Homo sapiens: one gene and its partners. The protein of the gene in region 1 purifies or fractionates together with the protein of each later gene. This does not show direct contact. Each region holds a gene or a part of one and is shown on either strand. Other genes may lie near its edges. The genes, in order: BET1, VTI1A, STX18 and NAPG.

Region 1 (7,304 bases):
ACTCTACTCTCTTGCTTCCCTGTGAATTTCACTGCTCAATTTAAATGTTTCATTTTAATTCTATCTGTGGATATATATGTCCTCTGTATTCACTCATTCCCTCCTTTTTCTCTACCAATTATGGCCCTATTTCCTTTGAAAATTTCTTTCTGAGGACCAGGGCCAGGTTCAGGGGCCTGCAACCTTTGCAGTTGCATAAGGTTCCTTAATCAGAAGGCCCCCAAACTTGGCTTAATGCTCTGTGGTCACTGTCTTGAAATTCTTAATAATTTTACCTTTGGCCTTAAGTTTTGTATATAAAGTCTTATGGAACAAGAGATAGTGCCCACGATTGCAGGAGATATGTACAACATGCATTTTCATTGTTCTTTGCCACTTCATTTGAATATTACATTTGCAGTGACCCAGGAACACAGAATGCCAGTGGACCCATGACGCATGGGAGTTCAGAAACACTCAAAAAGAGTACAAAAGGTGTGTTAAGTTTGTGTCAGAATAAGTATGGACACTGACAGCCCCAAAAGGCCACGTGCTCTGCTTGAACCAGAACTTCTTCCACAGAAAGAAGAAAATGACCAAGGAACTCTATCACATACTTTTTTATCTTACATTGTTGTGTTAGCCAATTGTATTAAAAATGATGGCATAAAAGGAAAAGAATAGATAAGGCAACCCCTTGCTCTCTTTCTTTTAAGTCCCTCCTAACTCATCAGTAGGCTGAAGGTAGAATGTTGGTAGAGTATGTGCCTGTCAAGACATGAAATAAAATCTGTTGACTTAGTTTTGATGCAGTGTTTTGACTGCTCTGCCATGGTAAGAATGAAATACAGATTCATGTGTGAGGTATCTATTTAGGCCATTCTTGCATTTTTATAAAGACGTACCTGAGACTGGGTAATTTATAAAGAAAAGAGGTTTAATTGACACATGTTTCTGCAGGCAGTACAGGAAGCATAGTGCCAGCATCTGCTCAGCTTCTGGTAATGCCTCAAGGAGCTCTTACTCATAGCAGAAGGTGAAGCGGGAGAGGGCAGGTTACTTGGTGAGAGTGGGACCCAGAGAGACAGGAGGTGGTGCCACATACTTTTAGACATCAGATCTCGTGTGAACTCACTCAAGGGGATGGTGCTAAGTTATTCATGTGGGATCTGCCTCCATGATCCAAACATTTCCCACCAGGACTTACTTCCAACACTGGGGATTACATTTCAACATGATGTTTAGTTGGGACAAATATCCAAACCATATCAAAGTACAAAATACCAAATGTGTAATTTTAGTGATTTCACGAGTAGCGTGCTCTTATGTTTGCATTTAAAACTGTCATTGCACAATATAAAGATCAAGGGTAAAATTAATGCTAATAATTTATTTTTTTCTTTACTCAGAAGAATATTAAATAGCAAATAAAAACACCATGACAAGTTGGTGTGGGGAGGGGAGGAACGATGGTAGGGAGATTACAGAAGAAAACAGAAGAAAGAGAAGTTTTGTATCTTAATACCTTTAACTGAACTTTTCCCCTGTTTTCTGAACTAGAGGCACAACATTTTCATTTTGCCCTGAGCCCCACAAATTATGTGTCTGGCTCTGCTGAGGACTTTAAGGTTGGAATTGTGTGCCTAATTTTTACAAACTATGGCTGAAAAGCTTGCCATCAGTGCTAGTAATATTCCCAAATTATGGAAAAGACAGATCAAATTGGTGACTTTTTGCAAACTCCTTGAAAATATTCTTCGCATTCTTAAAACTTTTAAGTAAAACTCATTCTTTCTCAAACATGAATAACCAAAATAATTTTTAAACACTCTATTTCTTCTTTAATGGCTTTGCTTTATTTTATCACAAGTATTACAACATTATTTTCCTTCTATTGGTCTTGAAAATACGCGGTATTTCTGCTGTCCTATGGGTTACACAGACTTTGATTGGCCAGCATAGTAACTCTAACAGCCATGTGTTTTCTGGGCTGAGTTGGGAACCTGACCATCATTTCAGTCTTCAGGGAAAATGTGCTTTAAATACCAAACAACAAACTTAGAAACAAACTTTGTCCCATAGCTTGTTTGTAAATCAAGAGCTTTTTGTTTCTAGTTTACATTTTGTGACAGTTCAAATATGATACCCGAGATACTGAATTTGCTTCATGATTGAAAAATGTGTTAATGTTTATTGAACCAGTTTTGAGAGCTTGGTATGCTCTTTTCCCTTGGATTGGACTTGAAATTTGGTCAGGAAGAGGTAGGACAAATGGGCAGGCAGGAAGCAGACAGATAGGAGAAAGAAAAGTTCCAATTTTGCACCTCGATTCAGACATTTCCTGCTTTTATTCTTGCTTTTGTAATTACTAGAAGGAATACTTAATATTATTTTAAGTAATTTTTAGTCCTTTATCTCCTAGAGACCTACAAACATTAGATGTTTTCTGTGAGACTATCCTGTGAGAATAGAGAAGAGGTTCTAAATGCTATTCATCTCTGTGAAATTTATTTGCTTTCAATCAGTAAGAAAAGTTAAGGATTTTAATTTAAAAAGGAAAAAGCACAACGAGAAAAGTGAAAATGATTCCCTCTGATCGCTAATGTCAACTATGGTCACATTTAATAATTCTTTTTCTGCACATTGAGTTCATTTTTCCTGCCTCTTCCTTTGAGTGCAAATTTTTTTCAGATGACATTATCCTAATTTGATACTAGCAACGTTAGCTAAAAACAATAATTGGATTTTTTAGGTAACAACTTCAATATGAACTAGCTTTGCCTTACTTCAGTTATATTCTTAGTACATTATATATGTTTTCCTTTTAACTACATTTCATTCTTATGTCTTCCTACCATGTAAAGGAAGCAGTATATTTTATGTAATCTAAATGATTAGTTCTAGTAAATATTACCATATTTTCAAAAATAACGATTTCTACATTTCCATCAGCAAGCCTTCTGTAAGGCAATTTTTAAACGTTTTAATTATAGAACATGCATTTTTTTAACCAAAGGACTGTCACAGATTTTAAGTTATAAAGGGATACCTAGCTATCATTTCTTTTATTGAATCTCCATCTTTTATTTGTAATAATTGTCCCTGATATTATGCTTATTTAATTTCATTGCTTTTAGAAAATGGCGGTTTTATTTTAATGATTTTTTTCTATCAAAACACTATTGGATAAAGCCTCCTTCCCAGGTTAATAACTCTTATTAAAAATTGTTTTCATGTGTTTTTTACAAAAGCAACTTAACGCAGAGACTTATGCCAGTATTATAGTCAATGTTAATAATGTCCTGGGAAACTATGAGGAAACGCTAAATGATCAAAGATCACATATTCGGAAATCTCTAGTGTGGAGACGATTCCACTGCCATATATACAGCAGCAACAACAAAACCGCAGACACCCAGTGAATTTTGATCACCTACTGTGTATCAGGTTTTTTTGTTTTCCCTTCAAAAACCACGATTTCATCGTATTCTCACGATAAATCCTCTGAGATAAAATGAAATTCTAGGATTAACCTCGATACCAGTAACACCTCCAACTCGCCAACAAGTTTTAAACCCCTAATTGGCACACTGCCTTGTGTAAGCAGTATTTCAATAAGCTTTGTGTAAGTTAAAAAAAAAAAAGTGGGAGAGCGTTTAGGGGTCCTTTGGTCCCCATAACAACTAAAAGTCTTGGTTCTTTCTAGAAGTACAACAGATGCAGTAACAGGGAACTAACTATTCAGTGCCTCTGACCAGATCCCGCAGCCTTTCCTAGTCTGCTCTCATCTGAGCAGGAGTCCTACTCAAAGGAACCTGGTTTTCTTTCCTTTACTGGATACTACAAGGCACAAATCGGTTACTTCTGTGGGTGTCGGATTACTTGTTTGTAAACTGAGAAACCTGGACAAAGTTTTCTCTAACTTTCCCTGAATCGTCTCTGGAGGTGAGAGGGAGTTCGAGGCTAAATCAGGAAAGATACCCCAACCATCCTCTTGTGGGTGGGGAGGAGCAGATCTGCTGGGTTAAACTTGGTGGTCAACAAACTGAAAGCAGCGACCCGCGGGCTGCGAGCGGAACAGCGGGAACGTTGGATCAGAGACCCAGAATCAGAGCCGCAGTCGAAGCCGCCCCCTTTTCCGGACGCCCCGTCCGCTCCTGGAACCGGGTTCACATCACGCCCTCAGCAACACGTTATGCGTTGGTGAACTACATTTCCCAGAATGCCTTTCAACCTTCTTCCCAGGGCTCCAATGAGCGCCGTGGTGACGCCATCATCCGGCGCGGTGTTTAGACTCCACTGATGTCGTGGCGCTTTAGGGGAAGAAGTTGGTGTTTCGCTGGGCCCTGGTACTGAAGACGCGGTCCGGGTCGCCCCTAGCTGTTTCCTACTCACCCAAAGCCCCGCACCCGCCTTTTCTCTCTCTCCTCTGGCAGGATGAGGCGTGCAGGCCTGGGTAAGAAGAGGGCTGAGGTTCGAAGTTCGGGGCCCTAGAACCGGGAGCGCTGGGGCGCGGGAGGAAATCGAACCTGTCTTATGTTCCTGGCATTTGGTCCAAAAAACAGGATGTCTAGAGGGGATCTTTGGGGTCCATGTCGAGTGGAAACACACCATTTGTCCCAGATCTTTGGAATTTCCTTAAGTTTGAGTCAGATTCAAGTTTGGATGGTAGGCTAGAGAAAGTAGTGGACTAGGGGTGGGTGTGTACAGGTGGCATCTCAGTGGTCGAGTGTTTTAGTGTTATTGACTGAGCGTGGTTATGGACGCTGCTATGTTTTCCAAAGCCCGACTCCGGTTTCTGTTTCCCTACTGGCCCTGGATCTTAGTTTCTTCAGAAGCGGAATTTGAAGAGTGGGTGGTTGCACCCAAAGCACGCTAGTAATGGTCGTTAATCTGGTAACAGTGAGTTACAAAGGTAAATGTATGTGTCATTATTGTTAAAGGTCCTGGAACTGGAACTTCTGGGTCAAAGGCGATTTCTTAATCTGAACCTTGTGCCACGGTTAAGGCAGTAGAACGTGGTTAAGGTTTGGCGACTTAACATTTGATCTTTACCTTTGGGGTTAGGAAACTGGCTCATCAGCAAGAATAAGTTAGACACAAGGAATTTTAATGGACCCTTATAGTAACGCACAGCTACTAGAACGGCATTTTCTGGTTCTGAAGCTTTCTCTTAGGACACGATTTTTTTTTTAAAGAAGACCCCGCTAAATTAGAGTGCAGTATACTTCAGAAAATAAATGAAACATTTGAAAAAAGATATTACCTTTCTCAGTCATTATAAGATTGAAAAAAGAAAAAAAAAATCCCCAAAGTGTCAGATATTTAAAGTCAGTGAAAGTTGCCAATAACCGTAGACTTGTTTATTGATCAATAAATTGTAGTATGAGAAAGTTTTTTGTTTTTTTAATGAAGTTTTTATGAATACTTAGATCATAGAAAATGGGGCCAGGTAAATTGAAGAGAAAAAAAAAAGAAATAATTTTGAGCAAGTTTAGCTTTATATGTCTAAATGTTTTTCTTGTTCATCATCCTTAATACCAAAAAAGATTTATTGTGTGCTTGAGTAAGCTCTAGGTATACAGTTGTTTGTTGCCCTGTTTGTGATCCCCAAAGCTTCCAGTCTAGGTGGGGAGTAGGAATATGTGCAAAGATAAATTGTAGTACAAAGTGTCGCTATACATCCAAATACCAGATAAGTTCTACATATAAGGGATGGTCTCAGAGATTTCAGAGATAGATCACTGTGTACTTTGTGGGGAAGATCTTTGTGTATTTGGTGGAGACATAGGAATTTGAAGTAGACCTTGAATAATGGAGAGTGGGGGAAGTGAGTTCCAGATAGGAGGAACTCAAAAGAAGTAAGGGATTATGATTAAGCCAGTTTGGGTGAAGTAGGGGATTCGGGATCACACTGTGGAGATCTTTGCATGCGAGGCCAAAGAGTTTGGATTTCATCAGTAGGCCCCTAGGCCCTTTTGAGTATTTTCCTGCTGCAGTGTGCCATGTTAAATTGCAGGAAAGTGACTTGAGTAATGGTTCTCAGCCCTGACTGTACATTAGAATCCCTTGGGAAGTTTTTAAAGTATTGTTACCTGGACCTCAGCTCAGCCAGTAAAATTAGAATTTCTCCAATTTAGAGCCCACTACCTTCTCCTTTTTTCCTTTTTTTTTCTTTCTTTTTTTTTTTTTTTTAAAAAAAAGCTCTTCTGTGATTGAGAGGAGAAGTAATTACCTAGGTAACTACTATTGCTATAATTTACATTGGTGTGAAGTGACAAAGGCTTTTGTTACACATTTTTTCTTTTCTTTTTTTTTAAAGTATGAATGCATATTGACCTGAAATTTTAAATTTGGGATCATAGTGAATCTGATACATATCCATAGGCAGAAGCTGCCACACTTCACATGAATCTCTAAATGGTTTTGTTAGCTTACTGATAGAACCTATCCAAAAAAGTAGCGTTTATCTAAATAAACAAAGGCTGAGGATGATCTTCAGTACTCACTAGCTTTTTTACAACTTTTCATAGCAGTACACCACCAGAAGAGAAGTGGCTTTGTTTGGAATAGCAATTCTAGCATTTTATTTGGTTTTTACTTTTGTCATTGTATTTGGGATGGGTCATAGTTTGAGGGAAGATCAACTCTTTAATAGGAATGTGCATTGATATATTTCTGGACGATAAATACAACAAGAATTTCACTTTGAATAAATGGAACAGCATGGAAGAACTCTAAAATTAAAATTAAGATAGGCAAAAGCAACTAAACAAAGGAAAGAAAAAATAGCAGTTAATTTATAATGAATTCCTTGGTGAAGTTGTCAAATGTTTGAATTCAACCAGTCAGTAATTACTTATTGGGTAAATGTTATATACTCAGAACCTCAGCCACACAAAATAAGAAGACATTCTTTCTTTAAGTATCTTGGCCCTTATTAAACTACAGTTTGCACAGAGTATCATTGGTTAACAGAGTAAGAATGCATTTTTAAATGGTGATTTTAATATTTGACTGAGCGGAAAAATATGCCCACTCCTTGAGTTCTTTTATAATAAAACATGTGGAGAGCTTCATGGATAGTGTGTCATGGATAGTGTGTCAGCAGCAAAATTCAGATAGTACAACTCTCTTCTGTTTGGAAAATACTTCTTCAATATTTTGTTGTGGTTTTTGTGGTGGTGGAGATTGCATAGGTATCTGCTGCATATAAAGTACTCATTAGGTACAGGGAGGATATGGAAGCATGAGATACTGTCTTTGCCTTCAGAGAAGCATATGATTCCATTCTGGACAAAGGTATGCACATTCAAAGTTCAATA
Region 2 (6,922 bases), on another chromosome or scaffold:
TTATCTAGATAATTTAAGTATAAAATGGCGATTATGGACACAAGTATTCTGACAATATTGTTTATAATATGGTAACCTTGCAGTGAATAGAAGTAGCACTAATGTAGTATAAGCAACAATGAAAACATCAGTAATTAGTTGATCAGTCCTCGCTGAACAGCAAGAAAGACAGGTACCTGTTACACTTTCTGCAGTGATGTGAACGTGGTGCCTTGTATGCTTGGCAGACTTTACAATACTGGAGATACATGGTATCCTGAGAAATTTCCTTGGCAGCAAAACAGAAACAAAAATGCATCATCGGATACTTGAATATAAGTATGATTCCTACGGTATGATTTTCTTTTATGGGCGATAGGGGAAGGAGAGAATCTTAACTTGCATTTCCAGTCCTCTTATTTGAGCTAAAATATTTTTAAATAAGTTTTCTGGTAAGAGCAGCATCACTTTCCCAATTACCCAGAAGTCCTTTTAAATTTTTCTTCCTTGTGCTCCACCTAAATTCAGTGTCACTAGTTGGTTCTACTTACCCCAAATCTTAGTGGATTCAGGAGTTCAGAAAAAGGTAGCTGACAACTTAGCAGGTATTTTAGAGTGAGGAGTTAATCGTGAGTTGATAGTCCTACTGAAATCTGCTCCCTCCTTGACATTACCCGTCACCACCCCTTTCTTGGGCCATTTTAATCACTTCCTAACTAGTTTCCTTTACTGTAGTTTTTCTTCAGCACAAACCGTGTATTGTCAAAATAATATTCCTATAATACACCTCTGACTGTGTCAGACTCTGCCTGAAAACCCCTACAACTTTCTATGGTCTACAATTTCTCATGTATTTAAGACTGTCACAATCTGCCTTTGTTTCAGCTGTCTCTGCCCTACATGATCTTTTCCCCAGTCACACAGGGCTGTCTACTGTTTCTGAATACGTGGTCCCACCATTCTTTCAACCTGAAATGCCCTCTTCCCCATCTCCTTTGGAAATTCCCACTCCTCCCTCAGGTCCCCAACTAACAATGCTCAATTCTTCTAACTTTAACAGCACCCATCACGTTCTACTTTATAGTTTAGTGATTTGCACAAGTGCGTTTGTTTCTTGCTTAGGTTATAAGCTCTTTCAGAGTTCAAATTACATCTTACCCTCCTCTGTACGCATTTTGAATAGTACATAGCACATGATATACACCAGTGCTTCCCGAACTTTAATATACCTAAGCATCACCTGGGCACTTTATTAAAATAAAGATTCTGCTTCAGTATGTCTGAAGTGGAGCCCAAGATTCTGCCTTTCTGACAAGCCATCAGGTGTGGTCCCTTAGCAGGAAACATGGACATTCATAAGCATAAATTTCCCAGTAGTTTTTAAGCTATAAATGGATTTGGACTATACTTCCCAATGTTATATTTTCAGTGCAATGATTTTAAAACTTTATGATTTAAACCAGCAGTTTCTAAAGCGTTTTTCTCAGTTCTAAGGGATGTTAATGTATTACATGAAAAAAGGTACTACAGCCAAACCTCACTGTGTATGACATGTGATGTTTCCTAAACTTTTGACCATGAACCTATCCCACCTCCACCCCACCTCCATCTTTTTTTTAATGCAGAGCAAATATTCAATAAAATTGCTTTGGAAAATGCTATTTTGGATCAATGTGTTCAAACAGATATGAAATAAAGTCTCCGAGCCTAAATGATCAGTGATTAGAGTAATATACTTAGTCTCTGTGAGGACAAACAGTAGGCTGTGTTTGGTATTATTGGTTAGTAGATAAGGCAAAAACCAAATATACGATTATCATTAAAGTTCATTGTCTTACAGAATCTTTCTTACCGGTTTCCACCCCAGAGGGACAAAGCCCGGACCGACAAACATGGCATTGAAGTAATTATAAAGAATCATGACAGTCCAATTTATCAACATGATGAAATTCACACTTCCTCCAGTTGTATGTAAGGGCCAATACCACAACACAGAGTCAATCATGGCCATGGTAGAACATATTGCTATAACACCAAGGGCTATGATGGGACCCCAGTGACACAGTCTCTTTAATTCTTGTAGATTTTCAAACTTGATAACCGAACAGAATGTACCCATTTTGGCAAGGAAGAATGCCTTCCTACTTTAAAAGAATTATAGATTTCCTTTTTCTGTGCGCACATTTCCATGTGCCACAAGTCCATGTGTGTTCTTTAATTGTCATGCCTTCAAGCTGTGAACTGTTAACGCAGATTACACCATTTTCACTGTCAGGCACCCAAAGCTCTTTATCTTAACTAGGAGAATCCAGTGTCTTGGTCTGAAACCCAACCTAAAGAAAACAAAATGGGAAAGTTCAGTTAAAACAAAACAAAACAAAACCTTTATTGCATACCATACTTGTTAACTACAATAAACACCTACACAACAGCATCTCACAAGTGCACTACACTTTGGGATGCATATCTTGTCAAATGTCAAAAAGAACTACTTTTGACTTATCCAAAATATGGTACAAGTTTGAATGGCATGCAAACTGGATACACGATTCCAAAATAGTTTTTTTTATTCCTTCTCCGCTTGTCAGGGGACTGTCACCATCCAACGCTTAGTGAATAGTTTGAGAAGACAAAGAATTTTAGGACCTTAGAGTTGATCTAATTCAGTTTCCTTCTTCATAGAACAGAAATTGTCTTAGAGAGGCTGAGTGATTAGACCAAGGTCACAAGTAACAGGTGAACCAGAATAGAAGGCAAGTCAACGACCTCCCTTTATGAAATTCTAAGCTGCCTCTTATGAAGTCTTGAATTAAGCCAAGTATGAGTCAGACATGGTCTATGCCATTTGCCTGCAGTCTCCTCCACCCCGCCACCCAAACATCAAGAGAACAGTCAATTTGGCCCAAAAGTAAAGGAGCGACAGTGAAAGCAAAGAGAGCATGCAAGGAAAGGAAGGGAGGAGATAGAGCGAGAGTGTGTGTGGTGTGTGTGAAATTATGACCAGAAGAGTATATGAGAAGAACCTGAATTAGAAGATTCGAGGGAAGAAAGAAGAGGAAGTGCCTCCAGGAGCGAGGGAAATGGAAGGCAGGGCGGCGAGCTCCGGAGAGATTTGTGGAAGGGCATCTCTGCCTGGACTGGATCTGAAGATCTGGAAGAGGATCTGAGCTACATGGATAATACAGACTACCACGCAGCAGACGCTGTTGACTTGTGCCTCAGTTTCCCGCCCGAGTCATGGAGCAGAGGGCTTAGAAATAAATCCTCACCCAAGGAAGAAATATCCTGGTAAGCCAGGTTGGTCTCAACATTCAGGAGAGCCTGCTCCCACTCTGGTGGGACAAAGACCACCAAAATCGTGCTTATATTCCCTGCCTTGACTCCCACCTCAGTGTGGTCCCTGGTGTCTGCTCCTCAGCCATCGCATATCCGGGGCGGCCTGGGCTCACCCGGAACAGATTTTTTCCTCCTTGGATGACTCCGTCATGGACACCTCAGCCCAGGACAAGCAGAGAGCAAACCCTGGCAGCGAGAGGCTGGAGTGCGGGACCTGCTACAAGCCGAGCACCTCTCGGCCAGCGCCCTCGCCAGGACTCTCCCGCTCAGGCCCCCTGCGCAGTCTCTGTTACTGTCACTTCCGGAGGTTCGCCGCCTCAAACCTCCCTCCGGAAGCAAGCTGCTGTGCCTTGTAGCGTGTGGATCCGGAGCCGATTCCCAGAACACGAAGGGGGGAAAAAACGCTTCTAATGATCCCTCAGAACTTGCATATTTTCATACGCTTTTCTGGGGGGAGGCACTAATTGGGGCGCTTTTCCTTTGCGAACTTACTTATCTTAAAGTCGGAGCGGAAAATAAAGCACGCACGCAACCCAATTTCCGGAGAACCGAGATTGCGACGAACAACCAGGAAGCGGCTGGGTTGAGAGCTGTCCCCGGTTCTCCGTTCTGCTCTCGGGGGCACCTTCCGGGGTTCCTAAGCCGCGGGGCCCCTCGCTGCCCCTCGAGGCCCTTTCCCTGACCTAGGCTTTGGCCTGGGCTACTCGTTCCGGAGCCGCCATGTCGTCCGACTTCGAAGGTTACGAGCAGGACTTCGCGGTGCTCACTGCAGAGATCACCAGCAAGATTGCGAGGGTCCCACGACTCCCGCCTGGTGAGAGCCTTGCCCGGCTGGACGAGGGTGCTGGGGAGAGCTGGGAGGGTGCGGGCGGTGGAACGCCGCCCGAGTAAGTGTGTCTATGAGGCGCGAGGCTGGAGTGGGTGGTGCCGGCTGTTCCCAGGAGGGATACGGCTTGGCTTGGTTGAGGGTAAGGAGTCAAGTTCGGGTGTGGGGTGCCGTGAAAAGAGCCTTCGGAATCTGAGCCATCTGAGTTCGAATCCCGGCTCTACCTTCTTGTAACTTGCATAACCTGGAAACGTTTCTTAACGTCTTAAGAGTCTTAATGTTTTCATTTGTAAATTATAGACATGTGAGTATTCAAAGAAAATGAATGAAAGTATGTAGCCTATGGATCTACAATCTACAGCGGCGTTGTTGTGTTAGTAATAATATTGTTATAATTATATGCGGCAAAATAGAGGTAAGAATCAGGGTGCCTAGATTCAAATCCTACCTCTGTCACTTAGAAGTTGTGCCTCTTAACCCGGGAGGCGGAGGTTGCAGTGAGCCAAGATCTCGCCATTGCACTCCAGCCTAGGCAACAAGAGTGAAACTCCGTCTCAAATAAATAAATAAAATAAAAGTTGTGCCTCTTAAACAGACTTCTTAGTCTCTTTCAACTTTCCTTCTTAGTAAATGGGGGAAAATTGTACTTCTCTCATGGGGTTGTTAGGTAGATTAAATTTATATAACATATTTAAAGTCACTTTTGGTGTTGTTAGTTGCTGTATTAGCATTAGTATTTTTCATACCCCCCACCCCCATTTCTTGTTTCTCATCCTTCTTGGGGATTTATTGTATAACCCAGTTTCATGTAAAACTTGGTACAAGATAATTTTTCACACTTAAAAATTTCACATCTCCCATCTGGAAATGTTTTTGTTTTTGTGTTTCCTTTTGTGTTTTAGCACATCTTATTTTCTATGCTAGACTGTCAACTATGTGAAGGTGGGAGCTGTGTCTGATTTCCTTGGCGTTTACTTATTAGGGGCTCAGGAAAATAAGTGAATGAGCAGGTGAATATAAATATGATCTTTTGTAACTATGGTTTGTACAATGTTGATTCGGGGACTATCTTTCTCTACAGATTAGAGTAGTTAGTTACAGAAAAGGGTTTTACATTTTTGTTTAGTTTTGTTAGGGAAATTGAACCATCATCTGGCTGCTAGACTTGTCCCTACCCTAGCTCCAGGATATAAAGTGTAGAAAGGTGGATGTGCTCATTAATCTGCGGATTGGTGGGCACTTCACTTGCCCACTTGTCCTGGTACTAGCAATAATTTCTCCCGGACCTAAGTTGTCATTCCTCTTTCCCTTTCCCTACTTCCCCCAAAACTTATGTGTTTATAAGTAATTTTCTTCCCTTATTTCTTTGTTTTTCTTCCCCTCACCTATTTTCTGTTAATAGGGATATTTGCTTGAAGCCAGGATCTCTGAACTTATACCCCACTCATCTCCTGAAGTCCCCAGTTAGTTCTGGAGGAGATGGATGATGTCTTAAAGAGGTTTATGAGTCCAAGTAAGGGAACAAGAGGAGAGAACCAAGGTAGTATATACCACCAAGCTCTGCTGCCTCAGAGATTTTTGTGTCGAAAGTGGCTGATGGCCTCATCTCTTCATGATACATCACCTCGCCTCTTCTCTTCAGTTCTGCTTTTCTCCACTGCCGGAGATCGTCTTGATTTTTGTTATTGTTGGAGACTACTTCCTTTGAATTGAGTCCCAGAGCCTCAGAGTATCAGGACTTGTGGTTCCAGTTAGAGTTTTACTCATTTTTAATTGTAATTGTTTTAGCAGTAGAAACATTTCTTTGGGTTATTAGTTTTTGTATTGGGAAGCTGTTTTACAAGGTAACAAAATCATCCTTGGATGCAAAGTTGTAAATTTCCAAGAAAACAGATCGTGTTACAATTTTTTTCTTGCCTTTATATTTTAATGTGACAATTCTTAACACATAGAAGGAAACTTTTTGAATTCAGTACCTTAAAAATAAAACTGGGCAGAGCCCGGTGGCTCATGCCTATAATCCCAAAACTTTGGGAGGCCGAGGCAGACGGATCACCTGAGGTCGGGAGTTTGAGACCAGCCTGGCCAACATGGAGAAACCCTGTCTCTACTAAAAATACAAAACTAGCTGGGCGTGGTGGCACATGCCTGTAACTCCAGCTGCTCAGGAGGCTGAGGCAGGAGAATCGCTTGAACCTGGGAGGTGGAGGTTGCGATGAGCTGAGATTGCGCCATTGCACTCCAGCCTGGGCGACAAGAGCGAAACTGTCTCAATAAATAAATAAATTAAAAAAAAACTATGTCTTTCCTTAGCTGTAGTATTATATAAGGCCCAAACACAGGAGCTTCATTACAATTGAAAGGAGACTGCATTGCTGGCTCTGGAAGAATGCTTACTGACTTGTATTATTGAATAATCATAATTCTTTTTTCTTTATGAGATGGGGTCTTGCTGTATCGCCCACGTTGGAGTGTAATGGCGCAATCTCAGCTCATTGCAACCTCTCCCTCACGGCTCAAGTCTACTCCCACCTCAGCCTCCCGAGTAGCTGGGACTACTCAAGCCACTGTGCCCGGCTGATTTTTTTTTTTTGTAGAGATGGGGTTTTGCCATGTTGCCCAGGCTTGTCTCAAACTCCTGGGCTCACGCAATCCACCCACTTGGGCCTCCCAAAGTGCTGGGATTACAGGCGTGAGCCACCGCACCTGGCCTGATCATAATTCTTAAAAACGCAGTAGTTGCCCTCTTAATAATGACTTGTGCTTGCCCCTTTTTAAATC
Region 3 (7,052 bases), on another chromosome or scaffold:
TGCAGCCAAATAAACTGGTGGTAAGAGCAATACATACTGATATTTAAAAATTTCCAAAATACATTGTTTTCTACAATACTGTTATGTAACCCCTCTCTACTCCCCCAAGGAAGAGGGGAGGGCATATGGAGAGGGATTACATAACCGTATTGTAGAAGAATCTTGATTTTATTTAACAGAAAAAATGTTTGGAAAGTTAAACACCAGAATTTTAACTATGGCTATTTCCTGACACTGGTACTAAATGTGAACTATTTTCTTCTTTATTCTGTTTAATGAGCACTTACTAATTTTATAATCAGATTTTAAAATAGTCAACTTCAAAAATGTGCCCTGCTAATAAAATTCCATTATAAAATTATATCACCACTTTTAAATCAAATACATTTGTGAAAACACACCAAAAATGCTAACTTTGAAAACAACAACAACAACAACAAACCAAAACAAAAAAAAAACCTCACTCTTTCAGAGACTCAGGGAAAATATCACAAGGTAATGGGCAGTTATCACTGCAAAAAGTATTTAAAAATACATCCTGGGACTTTCAGATAAAGAGTACTGAGTCATGCAACCATCTCATTGAAAAGGTCCTTATGGATTATCTAGTCAAAACCTCTCATTAAAAAAATCAGAAGAGTGACACCCAGAGAGGTTAGGTGAGTTCTCCAAGATCACATAGTAAGCTATTGGCAAAGGCCAAAAGTATTTACAATTCGAAACGTACACTTTTTAATTCCTTTCTCAATTCCTCTGAGTTAAGATATGCTGTAGCCTGTTACTTCTGCTAAGACTATAGAATTCACTGCTGGAGAAAATGTCCAAGAAAAGGCAAGTGTTCATTTCACCAGAGTTTTCTTATCATTTGACTACAAATTAGATAGAAATGTTACAATATTGTGAAATGGAAGTGTCTCTCTCTTGGTTAAATACAGCTTACAAATTCCATGGTAAGAACATTTTGACAAACAGACATATGTTAGATGGTGATAAGTAGAAGCTGGCAAACTTTAGTATTCATAGTCTTTGAGGATCTGAAAGTCTGTAACAAAGAAAAAAGTATTGCCGGGTTTAAAATTTCAACTGTGCTGCAAGCTTTCCATATCTGAGTTATTGGGTTCATTCAATATATCATACTTTCATTCCTCTGGTTTATTCACTTTCTTTTAGAGGAGTTTTGAAGTTGCCTCTTTTTAAGTCAATATTAAATGTAATACGCTTTAAACATAAAATGGTTTTCATACCATAAGCCATAATTAACATGTGTAGACTTCACTGATACTTTACCCACCAGAGGGAGTCCATGTGGATTTCCATGTAGTAAGAGACGTCAAACATCAAGTTTACATGAATTCAACAACCACATTATTCATAATACAATCAATATTATAAAATCACTCAATAATATATTTCTATCCCCTGAAAAAGAGAAAAATTAAATGAGATCGGGCACATAAAGTCCTTAACCGAGTTCCTGACCTATAGCAGAAGCTCAAAAATGACTGAGTTTCCAAAATCTGTATTCTTCTGCACATTAGTTACAGTGCTTACAACAAATTAACTGGTATTCTGACTTACACACAAGTTGACGTGAGCTTGGCTGATATCTGCCCTAACAGATGGCTCTAGCCTCAATATGTAGAAAAATCTGGTTCTTGGGCCTCCAAAATGAAGCCAGCCCCTGATGGGAAGAATTCACTAAAAACGTCACACTGAGAAGACGTGTTTCTGCAGCCCTACCCTAGTAGGTGAGACACATAATAATTGGTCAACTGCCAACTCAAAAGTGAGGAAAGAGGGAACTCTTTGACACACTCCAGATTCTTCATGGAATGCAGGAGAAAATGAATCAACTATCCCTGAGAATCATGCTTCTACAACATGTGATATAATCATTAACCCCAAGATGAGTTTCATTCAAGAATAAAGAAAGCAGAACTGAGAATAACAGGAGAGAACCTGGCATCCACACGGGCCATCCTAAGTTTCTACCTCCTTGTACTTCTCGCCACCATAAGTCCCAGCCTAGTGATGGCCGTATTGCTGAGACAGGTCTCAATCTCCATGCAACTGGCTGGGCATAGGTACATAGGCACTGGGTATCTATTTTGTACTCAACTGTCTCCAAGGTCTAAATGTGGCAAAGCTGAAGGACCCCATTGAGTTCCTCAATCCAGGTTTATCAGTAAGCACTGCTGCTGGGGAGTTATCCACCACATGCTGTCTTAATAAAACTCCAGTGTCCATGGGCTCCTTGGATCTATTCTCTACTATTTAGAATTAAGAAGAAGGCATGAATAACTGGCACTCAACTCTAACCCTGAAAACTCTGTTATTGTAATCTTCTACCATTTAACTTTTCAACCAGAAAGCTGGAAATTATTCTACCTCCTCCTCTTTCTATTTCCACTAATTAGTTACTAAGTTTTACTAAGTTTGTTGAGCCTACCTACTAAATACTAAATACCTACTTCATCTATTTTTCTCCCATCCAACCCTACTGTCACCGGCTCCTCAGTTTCACCTGAATTACTGCAACAGCATCCTGCTTAGCTCTCCATGTCAGTCTTGTTACATTCCAAACCCATCATCAACACTGCGGATTAGTTTAAAATACAAACATGATCCTTTCGTGCCTCTGCCGCATAGCCCAGAGCATAAAGTACAAACTCCTCAGCACTGCTAACAACGCTCTCATCTAAGAGTTGGCAAACTTTTTCTCTAAAGGGTCATACAGTAAATATTTTAAGTTTTGCAGGCCTCTGCAGGCTATCGCTCTGCTGCTACAGCATGAAAGCATTCTTGGCCTATATTTAAACAAATGAAAATGACATATTCCAATAAAACTTTATTTACACAACTAGGCAGTGGGCCGGATTTGGCCTGTGGGCCAGTTTGTGGACCCCTGCTCTAACCTACTTCAGTACAACCTCACCCCCTGACACTCTGACCCTCACCCGGGCCTCCTCCAGAAAAGGGCTCTAGTCACACCAGTCTTGCCTCTGGCCCCAAACTGCCCTACTGTTGTGTGCCACTGCCTTTGCTCACACCCATCCCTTCTACCTACGTCTGGTGGAATGGTTTTTCTCCTTAAAAGCCAAGTTTGATGATCACTTTGAGGTTTCCACTGATTCTCCCCTAAAGAGATTTAGGTATCCTTTATCTATCTTTTCAAAGAACAGGTTAATATGCCTCATAGTTTTTTTATGGCCCCACAATGCCTGACACACCAGATGTTCAGTGTTTATTGGATGATGGTATAAATCAATTATTGAATAAATACATTTCAAAACTTACAGTCCTCCTAAGTCTTGGGCAAAATTCAGAAGTGTAATCCACACAAAGGACTCACAATCTCATGAAAACTCTGCAGTGCTGAGCTCTCCTTATAGTACACACTCAGTTATTGCAATCCATAAAAACACAGCATCATGAAGCTAAAACAGGCCCTGGAGAGCATTAAAGCAGTGGTTTTTAAACTGTGTGTCTCTGGGCCCTCTGGTTGGTTCCTAGGGGTTCCTCAAGGAGAGGGGGAAGGTAACAGAAGGGTAGTAGGCTGGCGAATGAACCTCTCTCCCCAAACCTCTCACTCCAGCTTTTACCAAAGCTGCTCCTTATTTCATTAGCTAAAAGGTTCCTGCCATATTTAAAAAGAAATCTATATGATTCAGCACACTCATGCTCTGTTCACAGCTTGCATTCTAAACCTCCATTGTTTCCCAATCCTACTTCTGTATGGTTTGGCCCTATCTCCTGTCCTTCCTGCCTCTCATGGACTCACTGTACCTGTTGCATGATACTGCTTCTTTGAATCATGCTCCCTCAACTGAAATCCCCTAACTATGATTATACTCAACCCTTAGGTAAAATTTATAATCCAGGTGGTCCCAGCTCAACCTTTGGGTCCCAACACTGGCACAGAAAGTCAACACTGCCTCTGAAAAGGAAATCAAGGAGGACCTGGGGAATCAATGCTAAAAAAGTTACAGTTGTTACTCATACCTGAGTTGTTGTGCTACCTGTGTCTGCTTTTCCACTAGAATGTAAATGTGTTGAGGGAGGAACGGAATCTTAGTAATAAAAGCTACTATTTACTGAATGTTTACTCTTAATACCGGACTAAGTATAAATGTGCATCATGTAATATTCAAGAATCATGTGAGTATCACAGAGCTTTAGAACTGCAATGAGCCTTGGACAGAGATCACCTAGCCCCAAAACTGAGAGAGACAGTAGATTAACAGTTATTCATTAATTCAAGAAGTATTTATTAAGCACCTGCATCCCCACACTGTTCTAGAAGCTACAGATTCAGTGCTAACAACACAAAGTTCTTCATTTTCAGAAAACATATATTCGAGTAGACAAACAACAAATAAATGGATATATGATCTGCTAGGGGAAGGGACAGAAAAAGGAGGCCACTTTACGCAGGGCATTCAAGGAAGGCCTCACGGAGGCAACATTTAACCAGAGACCTGAGGAACTGAGAGATCAAGCCATATGGAATCTAGGAGAAAAGTGTTCCAGGTAGAGGGATGCAAAGGTTCTAAGCGGGAAATGTGCCTGATGCATGTGAGAAAATGAAAGAGGCCAGAATAGCTGGAGTAGAGTGAGCAAAAGGAGGGGGAGAGGAGGTGAGGCCAGAGAGGGAGCAGGGCCAGATCATCTGGCTTTGGGCCACTCCAAGAACTCTGAATTTCAGCCAAAGATTCAAGATAATCAATTCCTAAAAATAAGTAAATAAAAAACGAAGTTTAGCTTCCACAAAAGAATGTATTATCAAGAACAAAATCTCATCTGCATGCCTAATCTGAAAATAGAGTTCCCAGCAATTCAGGATCATTATTACCTTATTTAGAATCAAAGTGTCCTTATTCTACAAGAAATCTCTGCAGTTATCTAATCGAAGCTTTCAGTTTTACTAATGTGGAAACTGAGGCCCAGAGAAATCACATGAGCAGCCCACTTACTGGCAGACCTGCGGCTAGAACATGGGTTCCTGCTTTCCTGTGCGGTGCTCTTCAGTAGCCCCTGCTGCCTCTGCACAGCAGTTCGGTGCTTACGGGTTTCTTGCTTACCTGTGTGGTAGCCCCCCCTGGCTCCTGTAACCTTTATAAGTCAGTAAGAGAATAGAAGAGCTGCCACTATGAGGCATCTCTAGGCCTATCCTCACCCCAGAACCTGTCATTATAAACTCCTGCATTTTCTAGTTTCTCATTCCCCACAGAGTTGAAGACAGCCAGGCAGGCAAGGTGAAGGCACATCAGGCACTGTCCCAGGCACTGTGAGGGATGTTTTTGTTGCTTTTGCTTGCCCAACATTCCTTACTCCCTATTCCCAGACAGGGCACTGCCTTTTCCATGATTCTGGTGGGGGCTACATAGCATCCAAGCCACCTATTAACCACAGATTGAGGTGGACATAGACCTGACCAATTAAAGAAACATTCCTCTGGCTATAATGACTACTGTAAGAGAGAGCAGAGGATCAAGCAGAACCAACTAGATTTCCTTCCTGGGCTTTATGGATAAGAGCTAGAGAAAGAAGCTCTATCCCTGAATTTTCCAGTTATATGAGCTAAGGTATTCCCACTTTGTTCAGGTTAATTTACATTAGGTTACTATTACTTGCAAACAAAAGAACTCGGACTCATGTAGGCACCTGCATACCTTTTCTTATTTCACCTAACAACTTTATAAGGTTGCTATTACTCACTCTATTTTAGCCATAAGGTAACTGAAATTAAGTGGCTTCCCCAAGTTCATATAACAGATAAGACACATTCAAATCCAAGTCTTTCTGCCCCAGGTTCCATTCAGTATGCAGTATTCAGAATTAACTCAAGAAGAAGAAACTCACTGCCATTCAGAAACCAAACAAATTCTGGTTTAAAAATTACAGGAGAATGTAGTGGGCAGAGGGAGAGCAGCATTAAACCAGGTCAAAGGACCTGGCTTCTACTTATGGCTCTGTGCTATGACCTCAACTGCTACGACTTTGGGCAAGTAATTTCATTTATTTGGGTGTTAGTTTTCTTATCTATTAACAAAATGAACACAAGGTCCTTTTGAGTGAAAAAAAAAAAAACCACAAACAAACAAACATGGGTCTGCTTTAAGCATACAGATTCTACTGTTACTATATGTCAAGTAGATTTCAACTTGAATGTCAAGCCTAATAACAGGTAACGGCTCCTGGGGTACAATGTTGCAAAGGATTCTGAGCTATAGGGATCCACTAAGAAATTAGCACTGGCTTCCATGATCACAAGGAAGAAAAGAAAGTAAAAGCTGCATACCTGCCACACATCTGCCATCACTGAAAGAGTTTCACCTTGGCAAAGAAATGTTACCATCTTTTACGAATGCAGACAGTACTTCTGCACCACCGCTGATTCATCAGTACCTGCTCAGGATTTTCACTCATTCCTCACGCACTTAACTAAATTAAGGAATGAAAGTGCAAGAAAACTAAGTGGTTTGGAAAATACAGCTTGGTGCCACTAAAGAAAATATGTCTAAATGGCCTACATGAGGAGGGGGGAGGTAGTTTGGGGGAACAATAATAATCAGTCTGTTTTTTTAAAATACATACATATAGACTATGTGAGTAGGGTAACTCAGAAGCTACCCTACTTAGCTTGTGAGTTAAGTAGGGTATTATCACGTCCACTTTATAGAAATGGAAAACGAGAGTCAGACTTGCCCAAGTTCACCCATTTCTAAGTAGCAGAAGCGAGATTTGAACCCAAGGCCCAGGTCTCTTTCCAATCCCATCATCCTCACTAGTCCCACACTTCAAATGAGTTAACTAATCAAATTCCCATTGCAGAGTGACATATTCATTATTATTTGGAGTTGTTCGAATAATATAAGTTCCTCCCCCAAATAATCTGAAAAGTCGTTACTCTCCATTTGTAATTTAATGGGTAGACATGCATTTGAGTATATATAAATTTAGTAAAATTGAGCATAAAAGTTAAATGTTTAAAAGAATGATGCAGAAGCAATCAGCCTGTTGTTGGAAGGTAGGGACTGCAATAAAATTGC
Region 4 (3,238 bases), on another chromosome or scaffold:
TCTGCATTCTTTCTTACTTCAACTTCTCCTGAATCCAGGTATCAAATTATATTATTAATTTCCATTCCATGAAAGACAGGGATAATATTACATAGTTAGCATCCAATAAATGTCTGATTGTAAGTAAATCTGCTAGTATTTAAGGTGCTAATTATGTAAACAATTTCACATCAGTTCTCTTAGCCTCCTAATCATACATGGTTTTATCTCACTTAACCCAATCAAAGAATTACTCTCTTGGAAGAGGTATTAGTCTTTCATCTCACCAAACAGCAGTATATGTAGTATTACAATAACTGAATGACTGGTATTTTAAGAAGCTCAAACAGTTTAAATTCCCAAAGGTACCTTACTCCCAAAGAGCAGAAAAGACAACTGCAGATAACAAAATACTGTCCTTGTAAAATAATGCTGAAGTCATATAATTAAGAGAATGTGTCCCTGGAAAAAAGAAAATTAAAACAAGCTAAACAAAATAAATAATACAAAGAACAATTATATTTATATAGTTTCAGGTTTTATTTTCATAATTATCTTCCTATAGAAGCAATAATCTGTATTTCCATAACAACACATTTAATATTCTACTCATCAGAGTTGGGAAAAATAGGAATAAAGCAGATTCCATACAGAAATACCGTACTCTGCATATGTACAAATAAATTCAATATATTAAATCTATTTTGTAGCTGGACTTCACTTACAATGTAACAGAACATTGAATATTAGATTCTGAGCATATTCATGCAAACTTCCACTTTGGTGAAAGTGATGACAGTGGAGTTCTGGAAGACAATTTTCCTTGTAAACACCAAGTTTTGCACTTTGGACTATGCTCTCAAGATAGAAACTTACGTGAGTGGAAAAAGAAAATGTATAAATGTGAAACAAATATTCCTTACCACACAGAATAACCCTGACAACAAACAATATCCCCAAGTCCTGGTTATTCAATCCTCACCGTGGGCAGGAAGGGTGAAGGAGGCTGCACCTGGACACAGCCTTTTGTGTGGTTTAAAGCATAGCTGCGCTGCTGCTACAGAATGCACTTCATCATCACCTTTTTTAAAAAAAGTTTTCAGTACATAAGAAGAGTAAAATTAAAAAATTTTTTCCCCCAGACTTTAATGGGTAATATGATCTATCTATACATAAATAGTCTACAGTATCTTTAAAGTATTGCCAAATCTGTTTAAACAGATTACTAATTAGCTCAAATGAGCATTAATGTAAGACTCCAGAAGTTTCCGATTGGATCTAAAGGATACAAGCTGCAATGATGGGATCTTTGAAACACTGCAATGTCCTTAAATGCAAATGTCTACATATAGCTTGTTCATAGTTAATCCCAATATCATTAATAAAAATGAGGTGCTACCTGAAGAACTATGCCAATAAATTAAGGAAGAAAAACATTAAATTTATTAGCATTTTGTATCAGACTTACAATAAAGACTGTATACCAACATCCACGCACCCGAGACCACCTCCCAAAGGAGGATGTTATTCTAAGCTCTCCCGCAGAACTGTGACTAAAATCACTTCTGATACTCCACCTTAGTGTTTTCAGGAAGTCTAGCAAAATTAAGCAACCTATACTCAAATAAGGTATGACTCTAAAAGAGACAGAGACAGGGCATGGATGAGCAGGAATTACTTTGGCAGCGTGTACCTGCAGAACGCACACTGCTGGTGTCTGTAGCCTCTTTCCAATTAACAGATTACGAGATGGGTCTAAGCCACACAACAGGGTGAAAAAGGAATGTTTCGAAAACAGCATTTTAGGAAATAACTATAAAGGATCAATATATTGGCAGTGCGGTGTTTTAAATATTGTCTTTCTAAAACAATTCTTCCCTTTCAGCTAAGTTTTCATAGTATATAGCATTTTCCATGTCAAGTTATGACGGAGTTACAATCAAAATAAAATAAACAATCAAAATAAACTGTTTTGGAGGGAAGAAATATATCTGTATTAGACTGATGGAAACATTACCTCATTCTTACAATGTTAGAAAGATATTCATAGGCTGGGTGAGGTGGCTTATGTCTACAATCCCAGCACTTTGGGAGGCCAAGGCAGGCAGATGGCTTGAGCTTAGGAGTTTGAGAACAGCCTGTGCAACATGGAGCAACTCCATCTCAACAAAAAAAATAAAAAAAAAATTACAAATTAAAAATAAAAACATTAGCCTGGGAGCCGTGATTGTGCCACTGCACTCCAGCCTGGGCAAAAGAGTGAGACCCTTAAAAAAAAAAACAAAAAACAAAACAAACAAACAAACAAACAAAAAGGTATTCATTACCCATTAGCTCCTATTTGGTCAAGAACCAAGTAGATTTGAAGACAGTCACTGTATGTATTTTTTAGATAGAAGAAATACCCACACTTCAGAGAGGACTGAAGATATTTATAGATCACTTCAATATGCTACCTTCAAAATTTTTCAAACTCATAATATATAAGAGCTTCAATGCATCTTTTATTGGGCTAAATAATATTGTAAGGCTCAAAATAACTTCCTGTCCCCATCTCATCTCTGAAAAGACTTAATAATTTAAATGTATCTAACATCATGGGGGATAAATTTACTTTTCAAAACAAAAAAATTTTAAAATGATTTATCAGTAAACATCACCTTTAGCAGCAATTATTAAATGAAACGTAAAAAACAATTCACTAACAGTAACTTACAAGTGTCCAAGAGAGAATACCTATGCTTATTACCCCTTTTGTTTAGAACATAATTTATGTATAATTTGGCTTGCAAATTTTTTAATCAATGTATTAAAACATGACAGTACATTTTCTGTTAATTCCTGCTGGTGTCTTAGAAAAGCTCTTATGGAAAGAAAAAGATATGCTTCACAGGTAATGGATACAATGAGTGATTTGGGAAGATGGTAACTAAAAACTAGTCTTTATTAGGATCCAAAATCATGACTGTAATGAAGTACGGATATCCCTAATCTATTCCCAAGTCCTTGAAATGGCATGTCAGGATTTTACCTTTGTTTCCCTTTTCTTTTCAGCAAGCAAAATACTAGCATAGTCCTCCTGAGTATTCATCTTCCTCTTCATCAGCAGCCGTGGCAGTGACACCATCAGGCTTGGCCTGTGGTGTTGCAGGTGATTTCTTCTTGATTCCCCCTCCTGGAACCACCAAACTCAGGCCCAGCTTAGCATACTGTCAACAACAGAACATGTTCTTAAAAGCTGGATAACTAGAATCCTAAC

The links.
Region 2: the proteins of BET1 (region 1) and VTI1A purify together in Homo sapiens (affinity purification with mass spectrometry; 2 studies listed by BioGRID and IntAct, with this or other methods). This does not show direct contact.
Region 3: the proteins of BET1 (region 1) and STX18 purify together in Homo sapiens (affinity purification with mass spectrometry; 4 studies listed by BioGRID and IntAct, with this or other methods). This does not show direct contact.
Region 4: the proteins of BET1 (region 1) and NAPG purify together in Homo sapiens (affinity purification with mass spectrometry; 2 studies listed by BioGRID and IntAct, with this or other methods). This does not show direct contact.

What each region holds. Positions count from the first base shown.
Region 1 is NC_000007.14:94,001,329-94,008,632, reverse strand, and holds the start of BET1 (BET1 homolog), read left to right. Parts: upstream 1-4,277; 5' UTR 4,278-4,416; coding exon 4,417-4,435; intron 4,436-7,304. UniProt on the Homo sapiens protein: Required for vesicular transport from the ER to the Golgi complex. Functions as a SNARE involved in the docking process of ER-derived vesicles with the cis-Golgi membrane.
Region 2 is NC_000010.11:112,443,339-112,450,260, forward strand, and holds the start of VTI1A (vesicle transport through interaction with t-SNAREs homolog 1A), read left to right. Parts: upstream 1-3,876; 5' UTR 3,877-4,035; coding exon 4,036-4,129; exon of another isoform or gene 4,130-4,234; intron 4,235-4,441; exon of another isoform or gene 4,442-4,445; intron 4,446-5,043; exon of another isoform or gene 5,044-5,151; intron 5,152-5,543; exon of another isoform or gene 5,544-6,922. Other genes in the region: palmitoyltransferase ZDHHC6, read right to left, coding at 177-268, 1,832-2,098. UniProt on the Homo sapiens protein: V-SNARE that mediates vesicle transport pathways through interactions with t-SNAREs on the target membrane. These interactions are proposed to mediate aspects of the specificity of vesicle trafficking and to promote fusion of the lipid bilayers.
Region 3 is NC_000004.12:4,532,026-4,539,077, forward strand, and holds part of STX18 (syntaxin-18), read right to left. Parts: intron 1-7,052. UniProt on the Homo sapiens protein: Syntaxin that may be involved in targeting and fusion of Golgi-derived retrograde transport vesicles with the ER.
Region 4 is NC_000018.10:10,550,027-10,553,264, reverse strand, and holds the end of NAPG (gamma-soluble NSF attachment protein), read right to left. Parts: intron 3,189-3,238; coding exon 3,045-3,188; 3' UTR 501-3,044; downstream 1-500. UniProt on the Homo sapiens protein: Required for vesicular transport between the endoplasmic reticulum and the Golgi apparatus.